2 separate regions of the Homo sapiens genome follow, and region 1 is linked to region 2. Evidence: fine-mapped expression QTL. A gene starts in region 2. The other region holds a variant in brackets. All regions are shown on one strand. Distances are between the middles of the regions. Region 1 overlaps TESC (tescalcin). Region 2 holds the start of TESC (tescalcin).

What was found. PIP is the estimated chance that this variant, and not a neighbour inherited with it, causes the effect.
Region 1: its variant is fine-mapped to the expression of TESC in blood mononuclear cells (TOPMed, PIP above 0.99).

What each region holds. Positions count from the first base shown.
Region 1 is chr12:117,061,233-117,066,601 of GRCh38, reverse strand. All of the region lies in intron 2 of TESC (tescalcin), which reads left to right. Among named protein-coding and RNA genes, the nearest start is that of TESC, 35 kb to the left of the region's middle. RefSeq lists enhancers at 2,636-3,412, 3,413-4,189. The variant G/A (reference allele first, on the strand shown) is at 3,310.
Region 2 is chr12:117,096,411-117,101,779 of GRCh38, reverse strand. It overlaps TESC (tescalcin), which reads left to right and starts at 2,364. Exons shown (of 8, transcript NM_017899.4): 1 at 2,364-2,555. The coding sequence starts at 2,498. TESC-AS1 (TESC antisense RNA 1) reads right to left here and starts at 2,313. Exons shown (of 3, transcript NR_120464.1): 1 at 2,136-2,313; 2 at 1,140-1,327. RefSeq lists silencers at 1,148-1,365, 2,232-2,370, 2,109-2,628, 2,689-2,798, 2,869-2,968.

The DNA of each region.
Region 1 (5,369 bases), 35 kb after region 2:
CGAGGTCAGGAGATCGAGACCATCCTGGCTAACACAGTGAATTTCTACTAAAAATACAAAAAACTAGCCAGGCGTGGTGGTGGGTGCCTGTGGTTCCAGTTACTCGGGAGGCTGAGGCAGGAGAATGGCGTGAACCCGGGAGGCGGAGCTTGCAGTGAGCCAAGATAGCGCCACTGCACTCCAGCCTGGGCAACACAGTGAGACTCCGTCTCAAAAAAAAAAAAAAAATTAGCCATTCATGGTGGCGGGTGCCTGTAGTCCCAGCTACTCAGAAGGCTGAGGCAAGAACATCTGTTGAACCCAGGAGGTGAAGGCTGCAGTGAGCCAAAATCGCACCACTGTACTCCAGCCTGGGCGATAGAGTGAAGCCCTGCCCCAAAAAAAAAAAAAAAAAAAAAAAAGCTAAAGGAAGGAAACAGGGCAGACAGCCATCCCCTGGAACCCTAGGGAGGAGAGGGTCCTTGGGGTAGGTGGTCATGGAAGGTGCCACTGAGGAGGCCACATCTGGGCTGAGACCAGGAGAGAAGGAGCCGGTGTGTGAAGAGAAGAGGGAGGGGAGCTCTAGGCAGAAGGCCCAGCACATGAGGAGAATTGGAGAGTTGGGTGCAGATCACAGAGGGTTTGCCTTTGCCCTAGTGATGACTTGGGTTTCCTTTTGTCCTTGAAATAAAATGCACAGATGTGGCCTGAAACACCAGCTGTATGTTAGCTCCTACTTTTTTGTTGTTGTTTTGCTCTGTTGCCCAAGCTGAAGTGTGGTGGTTCGATCTCAGCTCACTGCAGCCTCAACCACCCAGGCTCAAGCGATCCTCCTGCCTCAGCCTCCCAGAACTTACAGGCATGTACCACCATACCCGGCTAATTTTTGTATTTTTTGTAGAGATGGGGTCTTGCCATGTTGCCAAGGCTGGTCTTGAACTCCTGGGCTCAAGGAGTCCTCTCACCTCAGCCTCCCAAAGTGCTGAAATTATAGGTGTGAGCCACTGTGCCCGGCCAGCTCCTACATCTGTATGTCCTCCCAGGACCTCTCCCCTGAGCTCCTGACTCATGTAGCAACTGCCCATCCACTTAATATCCAATAAGACATGCCGCTTAACATGCCCCTTTCAAAGCAAGCACCTCCTCATCCCTCCCAGAGGTCCCCCGTTCCTCTGTGGTGAACGGCAGCCTCACAGTTCCCTGCAGTGGTCACCTTTGATTCCTCCCTTTGTCTCAGCCCTGCTTCCAGTTCATCAGCAAACACTGCCATTTCTACCTCCCAAGGAGCCCAGGATTTGCTACTTCTCTCCCCTTCTTCCTCTGCTCCCCCAGCCCCTGCCCTCATCCAGCTGCCATGGTCTCTGGCCTGGGCTACCCCAACAGCCTCCTCCCTGGTTCCCCTGTGTCTGTCTTCACTGTCCATCCACCATCCAGGCTCACGGTACCATGTGGGAGGGTCCTATGAGACTGTCTCTTCTCTGCTGAAGATGTTCTGTCTCACCCATTGGGAGTCAGAGCCTCCGCTGAGGCCTCTCAGTGTCCTTCTGGCCCCTGCACGGTTGGGCCCCTGCCACACCCATCTCCAATTATTTTTGCCCAAGTTACATGAACATTCTTTGTTCCCCACCCCAGGGCTCTAGCTCATGCTGTTCCTTCTTCTTAGAATGCTTTTCCCCTAGAGCAGGGTTTTTGAGCCTGGGCTCTGGGGCTGGATGATTCTTCACTGGGGGTTGTCCTGGGCACTGTGGGGTGCTGAGCAGCATCCCTGGCCTCCACCCACTAGATGCTGGTAGCACCCTCCCCACCAGCTGGACACATGGGAGTGGAGAACCTCCCCTCCTTCAGGTCTCTGCTCAAATGTCACTTTTTTCCCTGTGGCCTTTCTGTGGTCAACCTCATTTAAACTTGTACCGGTCTCCTGTGGTCCCCTCCCTTTCTCTGCTGAATTTCTCTGCAAAGTACTCATCACTCCCTGAGATACTCTATTTCCCATCTTTTTTGTGCTCTCCTAGATTCCCCGTAAGGGATCGTGTCTGTCTTTACCTCTGCAGCTGGCACCTAGAACAGTGCCTGGCTCCTTGAAGGGGCTCGAATGCTTGTCGCTGAGTTGCTTTCACTGTAAGAAGTCAATTCCAGGTGTTGGGGAAAGTGGGGGACTGACATGGGGCAGGGACAGGGATGAGAAGGTGTTTGCCTGGGGGAGTGGTCTTGGCGACGTTGTCCAGCTTTTCAAAGAGGCATTTGCCAGGAGCAAAAAGGACCAGGCCTTTCTTGCCAGAATCTTCTGTGCAAAAATGTGGATAGGAGAATTGCCTAGCACATTTGCACAATTCCAGGTGCTTTGAAACATTGAGAGATTAAGAGGCCAGCAGTTCTCACGCATTCATGTGTACGTGAATGCCCTGGGGACTGCGTTAAAATGCAGGTTCTGTAATGCCAGCACTTTGGGAGGCCAAGGCGGGAGGATCACTTGAGCCCAGGCGTTCAGGACTAGCTTGGGAAATATAGTGAGACCCTGTCTTTACCAAAAATAAATTGGGTGTGGTGGTACACACCTGTAGTCCCAGCTGCTCAGGAGGCTGAGGAGGGAGGATCACTTGAGCCCAGGAGTTCAAGGCTGCAGTGAGCCATGAATGCACTACTGTATTAATGCAGGTTTTGATTCAGTAGGTCTGGAGTAGGGAGAGATGGTGCATCTCTAATAAGCTCCAGGTGATGCAGATGCTGCTGGCCCAGAAACCACACTTTGAGTATCTTGGCTACTGGGAAGACATGTGCTGAGTGACATGCAGTCTCTGCCTTGAAGAGTCTCCATGGGGCCTCAGCTTCCCCACTGTGGGGGACACCACATGCTGAACAGTGAGTGCAGGAAGGGGAATCAGAGGGGCACTGGGCAGGCAGTGCAGGAAGGGGAACTCAGAGGGACATTGGGCAGGCAGCCCGGCAAAGTGGCCTCCCTCAGTGCAGGGAGCCCTGGAGCGGTGGAAGTTCCGGCCTGAGAATCTGGGGCCTGGCTGCACCCTCACCTTGGAGGTCGGTTAGCCTTGTGGTGGTTGGTGGGGGTTGGGGAGCTCCATGCTCAGTACCCCTAGAGAGAACTTTGCAACTGAGCTGGGCTCCGAAAGCCACCGGAAACCAACCCACACCACGAGGCTTGAGGAAGAGCCCAGCACAGTCCTCGGTGGTTTTTTGAGCCTGGTCCTTCCCTTCTTGTTGGCCTGACGCTTGTCCTGCCCTCTTCCTGGGTCCCAGATGGGGCCTCTTGGGCTGAGGGCTGGGGGCTGGGTGAGAGCAGATGCCTCGCTCTTTCTCTCTTTAACGTAAAAATGC[G/A]CAACTGGAAGGAAGGAAGTGGTGAGAGTGAGGAAGCGCAAGATGGTTCGAGCCAGCCTGGAGGCAGAGCTGGAGTCCCGCGCCAACTCTAGCTGTGTGACTGGGGCTTAGTCTCTTTGCCTCTCTGGGCCTTGTGTTCTGGTCTGTAAAATAGGATCATCATTGTTGCCACTCATGATTATGTGGGGGTGATTAAGTGTTGCAGTGCTTAGCACAGCTTGATGTCACGCGAGCCCTTCATGACTCCAGGGGGACATTCTGAAGCCCCGAGGGCTCAAGCTCTCCCGCAGGAGGCCTGGAAGGTGTGTGGCCCTGGAGCCCTCCTGGGCAATCCCCGCTACCCCTGATGGTCACTGGGGCAACACCACTGGCCATGAGAATCAGCTCTGGCTGAGGGCAGTGACCTGCCGTCAGCCCTGGGCTCTGAGGTGAGGCAGAGCCTGTTCCCATGGCTGCAGCCTGGGCTGCGACACCTTTAGAAAAGCCGGTTCATCCAGCCCGGCGGGGACCTAGGGAGGAAGGAAAACAAAACTGACACGAGTATTGATGGAGCATGAAACTGATGAAATGAAAAGGTTAGCCTGTCCTAAGCGCTGGACTCAAGGCCGGTGCTCTCCTTGTTGAAAAGGGACATTGGCAGGTTTTAGGGAAAGTCCCTGAAGGCCAGGCACCAACCACCATGCCACTGCCTGGGTCCGCCAGTATCATTCTTAACAATGAGAAGTGGCTTCATCTCTCTGCCTCAGTTTCCTCATCTTTAAAATGGGCACAGGCCGGGTGCAGTGGCTCACACCTGTAATCCCAGCACTTTGGGAGGCTGAGGAGGGCAGATCACCTGAGGTCACGAGTTCGAGACCAGCCTGGCCAACATGGTGAAACCCCATCTCTACTAAAAATACAAAAATTAGCTGGGCATGGTGGCAGGTACCTGTAATCCCAGCTACTCGGGTGGCTGAGGTACAAGAATCACTTGAACCCAGGAGGTGGAGGTTGCAGTGAGCAGAGATCACGCCACTGTGCTCCAGCCTGGGCGGCAGAGTGAGACTCCGTCTCAAAAAAAAAAAATTAAGAAAATAAAATGGGCATAAGTACCTACTTTATAGGGTTGTTGTGAACCCTATGTAATAATGTAAAGCTCTTAGAATAGTTCCTTCCATTTTGAGGGTACGTAGGTTAGCTGCTGTTACATTATTATTATTACTACTATTAATACTGCTGCAGCGATTACTGTTACTGCTGCTGCCGTTATTACTGTTATTATTTTAAAATTAAGAGCTCATCCTGTGTCAGGCAGCCTACTCAGCATCTTATGTGGATTTATCTCATTTGATCATCTCATTAGCCCCATCATGTTACCTGGATATTCCTATGATCCCCATTTTACATATGAGAAATCACGGCTTGAAGACATGCTGTGATTACTCAAGACCATGTGCCTGGTAAGGGGCAGAGCCTGGGCCAGCACCCCTCTCCCCACCTTGTGTTTGACCCTGAACCATCCCCTTTGATATGGGAAGGATTAGGTCTGCACCCATCTCACAGATGAGGAAACTGAGGCTCCAAGAGTCAGGCACCAGTGGTGAGGGGGAGGTGAGAGTCAGGTGTGGATGTAGCAGGTGCCTATGGAGAGAGAGAGAGAGAGCAGAGGCAGCGGGCTTCAGAGCCATTTACACACCCACTGGGGGTTGTGAAGCCAGCACCTGGGGACACTGTGTCCCCAGCTCAATTCCTAGCAGGTCAAGCATGTCTTGTTGCTGCTGGTTGGGGACAGGCCTCTTGTGTTGAGTTAATTTCTTCTCCAGGCACATGGGTCAGGCTCTTCTAGGTGGTTTCTCCCCCACCTCTCCTCCCTCTCTCCTGGGACATTGGGGTCTGCTCTCCTTCCAGGGTCTGGACACCTGGGCCCTGGGGAAGGCACCTGGGGAAGGGCAGTGCCTCAGGATGGGCCAGACAAAGAGGGAAGCCCTGCGTGCAGCCATCTTCATTATTCGCTTCATTATTCGCTCAGCAAACCATTTATTGACCACCTTGCCAAGCCCAGCAGTGCAAGGCACTGAGGA
Region 2 (5,369 bases):
ACTCCCTTCATACTAGATACCAGGGGCTTCCTTGAGATCACCAAGGGACAATGTGAAGCCATGTGCCCTTCTCCTTGTCCCAGGGCTTTTGTCCCCACCAGAGCAACTGTGCCAAGCAGGAGGGGCTGATGTCCAGAGAATGCCACTTCCTATCCCCCACATCAGACAGTTCCATCATTTAATCCTTGACTAGTTTAATATAATAAAATTCCAGGAACTGACATTTTAAGTTGGAATAAAATTGCTCCCAGCAGCTGTACGTAATGGGCTGGCTCAGCGGCTCAGAACTCCCAGGGGTATTGGGGATCCTTTCCTGATCCCAGAGGCCTGCCTGTTTCCAGAATCCTTTAAACCAAAATGCAGTCCCTAGGTCAGCTGTCCTGCCGGCTCAGATCAGCTGATGACCCACAGCCAACATCTTTCCACCTTGATCAGGTCTTGCACTGCCCTCTGGAGAGTGCTTTAAAATGCAGATTGCAGGTGCTGCCTTAGCTCTACGAGTGCAGACAGGCAGTGGAAGAGGAAGCTGGATTTTCCATTTTAGAGACAGGGTCTCGTTCTGTTGCCTGGGCTGGAGTGCAGTGGTGCAATCAGAGCTCACTGCAGCCTCTAACTCCTGAGCTCAAGCGATCCTTCTGCCTCATCCTCCCAAGTAGCTGGGACTTCAGACGCACACCATTGTGCCCAGCTCATTTTTAAAAAGTTTTAATTGCTGGTAGAGCTGGGGTCTTGCTATGTTGCCCAGGCTGGTCTCAAACTCCTGGGCTCAATCCTCCTGTCTCAGCCTCCCAAAGTGGTGAGATTACAGACATGAGCCACTGCACCTGGCCAAAAGCTGGATTTGCAACCAGGAAGGGGCTGATTCTGATGCTCTAGGAGGTTTTAGGACCAACTCCCACCCTCTACCTCGGGCTCTGAAAGTCACCTCCTGCCCCTGGAAAGGGCTGTGACCCTTGGCTTGAGCCTGTAGTCTGCAGGAATGAACAGCAGTTCTCAGCAGCCCCCTTCCCAGCAGCCTGTGAAACTGATGGAGGTAGGTCCACCCGAGTCCCCTCTGTGGGCACCGAAAAACTCCTGCCCCCTACCCTGTCCCCCTTCCTCCCCAACATTTATCATCGAGACTAACGTTCAGAACAGACCTGATACCTGACGGTCATTGATGGTGGTGTCACTAAGCACTGCAGAGCCTTCAGGAGAGCCTTGACCTTGATGTTCTGCCCTGGCTGTGTGCCTCTCCAGGGGACAAGATTCCATAGCGCCCACCAGCCTCTGTGGCCATGTGCTGTGTCCACGCCAGGCCCTCTGGTGGACATCTCATTAACTTATCCTTATTTTAAGGAGGAGGAATCACATTACACAGGCAACAGCATCGGCCCCAGTCACCCCAACTGGATGGAGAGCCAACCCCTCAAGCCATCTTAACCCAGAACTTCCCTAATGGGCATGGGGACCACCGGCATTGCCTTCTCTCCAGCAGTTTGTCCCAAATGCAGCCTCCTGGGCCCACTTCTGCAGTTGTTTTTTTGTTTGTTTGTTTTTTGAGACAGAGTCTTGCTCTGTCGCCCAGGCTGGAGTGCAGTGGCAAGATCTCAGCTCACTGCAACCTCTGCCTCCCAGGTGCAAGTGATTCTCCTGCCTCAGCCTCCGGAGTAGCTGGGATTACAGGCATGTGCCACCGCGCCTGGCTAATTTTTGTGTTTTTAGTAGAGACGGGGTTTCACCATGTTGGCCAGGCTGGTCTCGAACTCATGAGCTCAAGTGATCCGCCCGCCTTGGCCTCCCAAAGTGCTGGGATTACAGGCGTGAGCCATGCGCCCAGCCCGCTCCTGCAGTTTGAGGTGCCTCTCAGCCACCGGGCTGTGCAGGGCCCACACGGGCCGCCACGTGGGTGTGTTCACCTCAGAAGGTGCTGGGGCTTTCCTGGAAAAAACCAAAGCGCATGGTGCATTTTCAAATAGGATTATTATTACTGTTGTTCTCCATAGAGCTATTTCATGCTCGCTGACTTCCTTGACTATCTCAGTGGAGTTTCCCTCCTAAGATCTGGAGGATGTAAGGTGGGATGGGTTGGGAGTGGGCATAGCACCTCCCAGGGGTCCCACCCCTCCTACCCACGCCCCCAAATTTGCTCACACCTGCTTCCTTCCAGATCCAGCAGGTGTGCGGAAGGGACGAGGTACGTGAGCACTGCTGCACGAACGGGGACTCCAGAGCGGTGGGCTCCGGGGTCCCCTTCCCGGCGGTTTCCGGGCCGGGGCGGGGCGGGGCGCTCCCCTAGCCGCGCAGTGCGCGAAACCGGCGTGCGCTAGGACCGCGGCGCGCCGCCCTCCGCCGTTATATGAGGCCCCGCTCCGGCCCCACGCGGAACCCGCGGCTCCGAGCCTTCGCCGGCGTCCCGACCCGAGGCCGGACCCGAGGCCAGTCCCGCCGCTGCGCAGCCGAAGCCAGTGCGGGGCCTGAGAGGGACGCGCGCCCCGGGGCCCCCGCCGCGGGCACCATGGGCGCTGCCCACTCCGCGTCTGAGGAGGTGCGGGAGCTCGAGGGCAAGACCGGCTGTGAGTACCCGCGGGGGGCGGCGCGGGGACCGGGGCGGGACCTCCGAACGGCCACTGTTGGGGACCCCGGCCCGCCGCCGCGCTGTGTGACCTTGGGCCAGTGGCGGGCCCTCTCTGCGCCTCAGTCTCCTCCTCTTTCAAATGGGTCCCCGCTGGCCACCTCGCGGGCTGCGGCGAGGAGCTCCGCGGCGATGCTCAGTGCCGCAGCCGCTCAGCTTCGGACTGGCCCGGGAACTCCCTGGCCGGGGGACTGCGGACCGGGGAGGGAGCGGGGCCCAGGCTTCCCAAGCGCAGGGCAGGTGCCTCAGGCCGGGCGGGCAAGTCCCTCAGGCACCCCCGCTGGCGCGCGCGCCCCACACCTGAGAGTCGTTTGCATTCGTGAGCGCGAGAGCGGAAAGTTTTGAAGTCGGCGGACCTGGGTGGGAACAGGTCTCCGACGCTCCCCGGCCGGGTGACCTTAGTCGGGAGAGCCGGCGCCCGGCGCCTGCTTTCGTCCTCGCATCTGTAAAATGGGTTCAGGCAGCCTCATCCCCGCGGGTGGCTGGGAGACTTAGCGAGGCAGCGGCCGCAGAGCACTTTGCCCGGAGCCCAGCGTCCTCCCCTGAGTTCGCTGAGTCTCCCGGGACCAGCAAAGGCTGCGCGCCCCGCATCGGCCCGGAGGCGGGGAGCCCTGGGAGGCCTGGCCGAGCTGCCCGCAGGGAAATGGCGGAGAAAGCGCTTCTCTGCCCGAGTTCAGCCGGGCTGGGGACTTGGCCCTGGGTCCTGAACTCGGCATGGCCAGTTCTGCCTCTGGCTGTGGACCAGGGTGTGGACTGGAGACCGCGGGGGCCAGGTGTGTGGGCAAACCGGCTTTGGCGAGCGACAGACCGGCTGTGAACCCTGCCAGCTGCACTTCCTGGCTGTGTGACCTTGGGCTAGTCACTTTACCTCTCTGATTCTCAGCTTTCCTTCTCTGTTGTAAGAGTTCTCCTAGTACCTGGTAGACGCTCAGGAAATGGGAGCTGCAGATATTTTGGGAAAGAGCTAGCTCCTGGCACCTGCTTCAAGTGCAGAGAACCAGCGTCCAGTATTGATCACCAAGAGAGGGTGGCCCAGCTGTTTGTGTGTCAGCTGAAAAGCAACCCCTCTTGACCCCCAATCTAAATACCCCTTTCCAGGAGAACTGGATGAAAATTGCAGAAAACCATTAATAACTGGTGTGTGTATGCACGCACTTATACGTCTATATCTGTATCTCTGTGTGTGTAGAGATATAGAAATATCCAACTAAAGAAGTAAAAGGTGTGGCTCAGCATATATAATATGGTACCCTTTTTTCTGTTTTTTAAAAAAGGATCCTTTGAGCTGGAGCCGCAAAGTAAAAAGAAATAGAAAATGTAAAAAGAGGGGAAAATAAGAGTATACATTTGTAATTGCTATATTTGCAGACTGGAAGAATCCACCAGAAAGTACGAATGGATGCTTGGTGGGGGTTGCGGGGGGAGTGGAAGGGATGAAGGGAGAGTGAGCTTTTTCTCCGTAAACGTTTTTATATGTTCATTTTGAACTATGTTGGATATTTTACTTACTCAAAAAGTTTTATGCACTTCAATCCGAAGACTAATATGAGAGAGAAAGGAGGGATTCCTCTAGCTCTTACTTGCTTGGGTCTCCTCTGCTTTTATTATTTCTCATGTGCCCTCTCCTCGCCTCCCACTGCTTTGAATCTGGATGGGTGTCGATGGGCATTCTCTGTGGCTGGGATCCCCGTTGGAAGGGTGGGCTCTCCGGCAGCCCACGGGGCACTCGGGAATTCCACCTGGTTGTGGGTTTGACAGGGAGGAGGGGCTGCAGAGCATGCTGGGAGTCTTGTCAGTTTCCTGGGTCCAGCCTCCCACTGGGATGACAGATGCTGTGTTCCTGCTCTGTAACCTTCCTAGATGTAGCTGCAGCGGCTTCCCTTCTTGCTGCCCAGAGCTCAGACTTCATAACCCAAGGGAGATGGAGAGGGTCGGAGAGGAGGTTCTGAGGTTAGACTAGAGTAGGCAGGTGGAACTTTAGGTAGGTGGAAAGTTGCCCCCAGTCCTCCGAAAGGGACTGCGTAATTCGGTCACTTTTGCCCACTTAGCAAATATTTATAGACCAGGGGCTGGGGATTTAGAGATGACTCGGAGAGGCTGCTGTTCCTGGAGGGGGACACACAGTAAACAAAACGCCCGACAGGTGTTAAACTGTGAACGAGGCATAGCAGGGTGGCATGAGAATGGAGCTTTAGGGTGGATCCGGAGGTCCTCCCTGAGGAGGTGATAATGGAACAGAAATCCAAGTAAGAATGAGCCAGGGGTGTGCAAATCAGTGGAAAGGGCATCTCGGGCCGAGGGGACGTCGAATGCAGAGGCCCTGTGGCAGGGACAAGCCAGCAACAGTAAATAAGAATGCATGAGATGAGGACACAGCTGTCGTCAGGGCTCAGGCTGTGGCAGGAGCCTGGCTTCAGGGGCCTTGCCAGGTACCTTGGGCAAGTCACTTATGCTCTCTGAGCCTCAGTTTTATCTACTATAAAATGGGCATAGTCATAGTACCTCCCTTGAAGTTGTTGGGAAGGATTGAGTTAATATACATGAAGTAGTTAGACCAAACACATGTACATGGTTTGTTATTGACCATGCTTTAAACACTCTTGTATGTCCTGGTCGCTCCGAGCCATAGCTGAGAGTTGAGTCTTGGTCCCACCTCTCTGAGCTACATGACCTTGGGCAAGTCATCTTACTTCTCTGAGCCTCAGTACCCCCACCTGGATCCTGAAGTCATTGTGTGGATTTGATAAGGTTACGT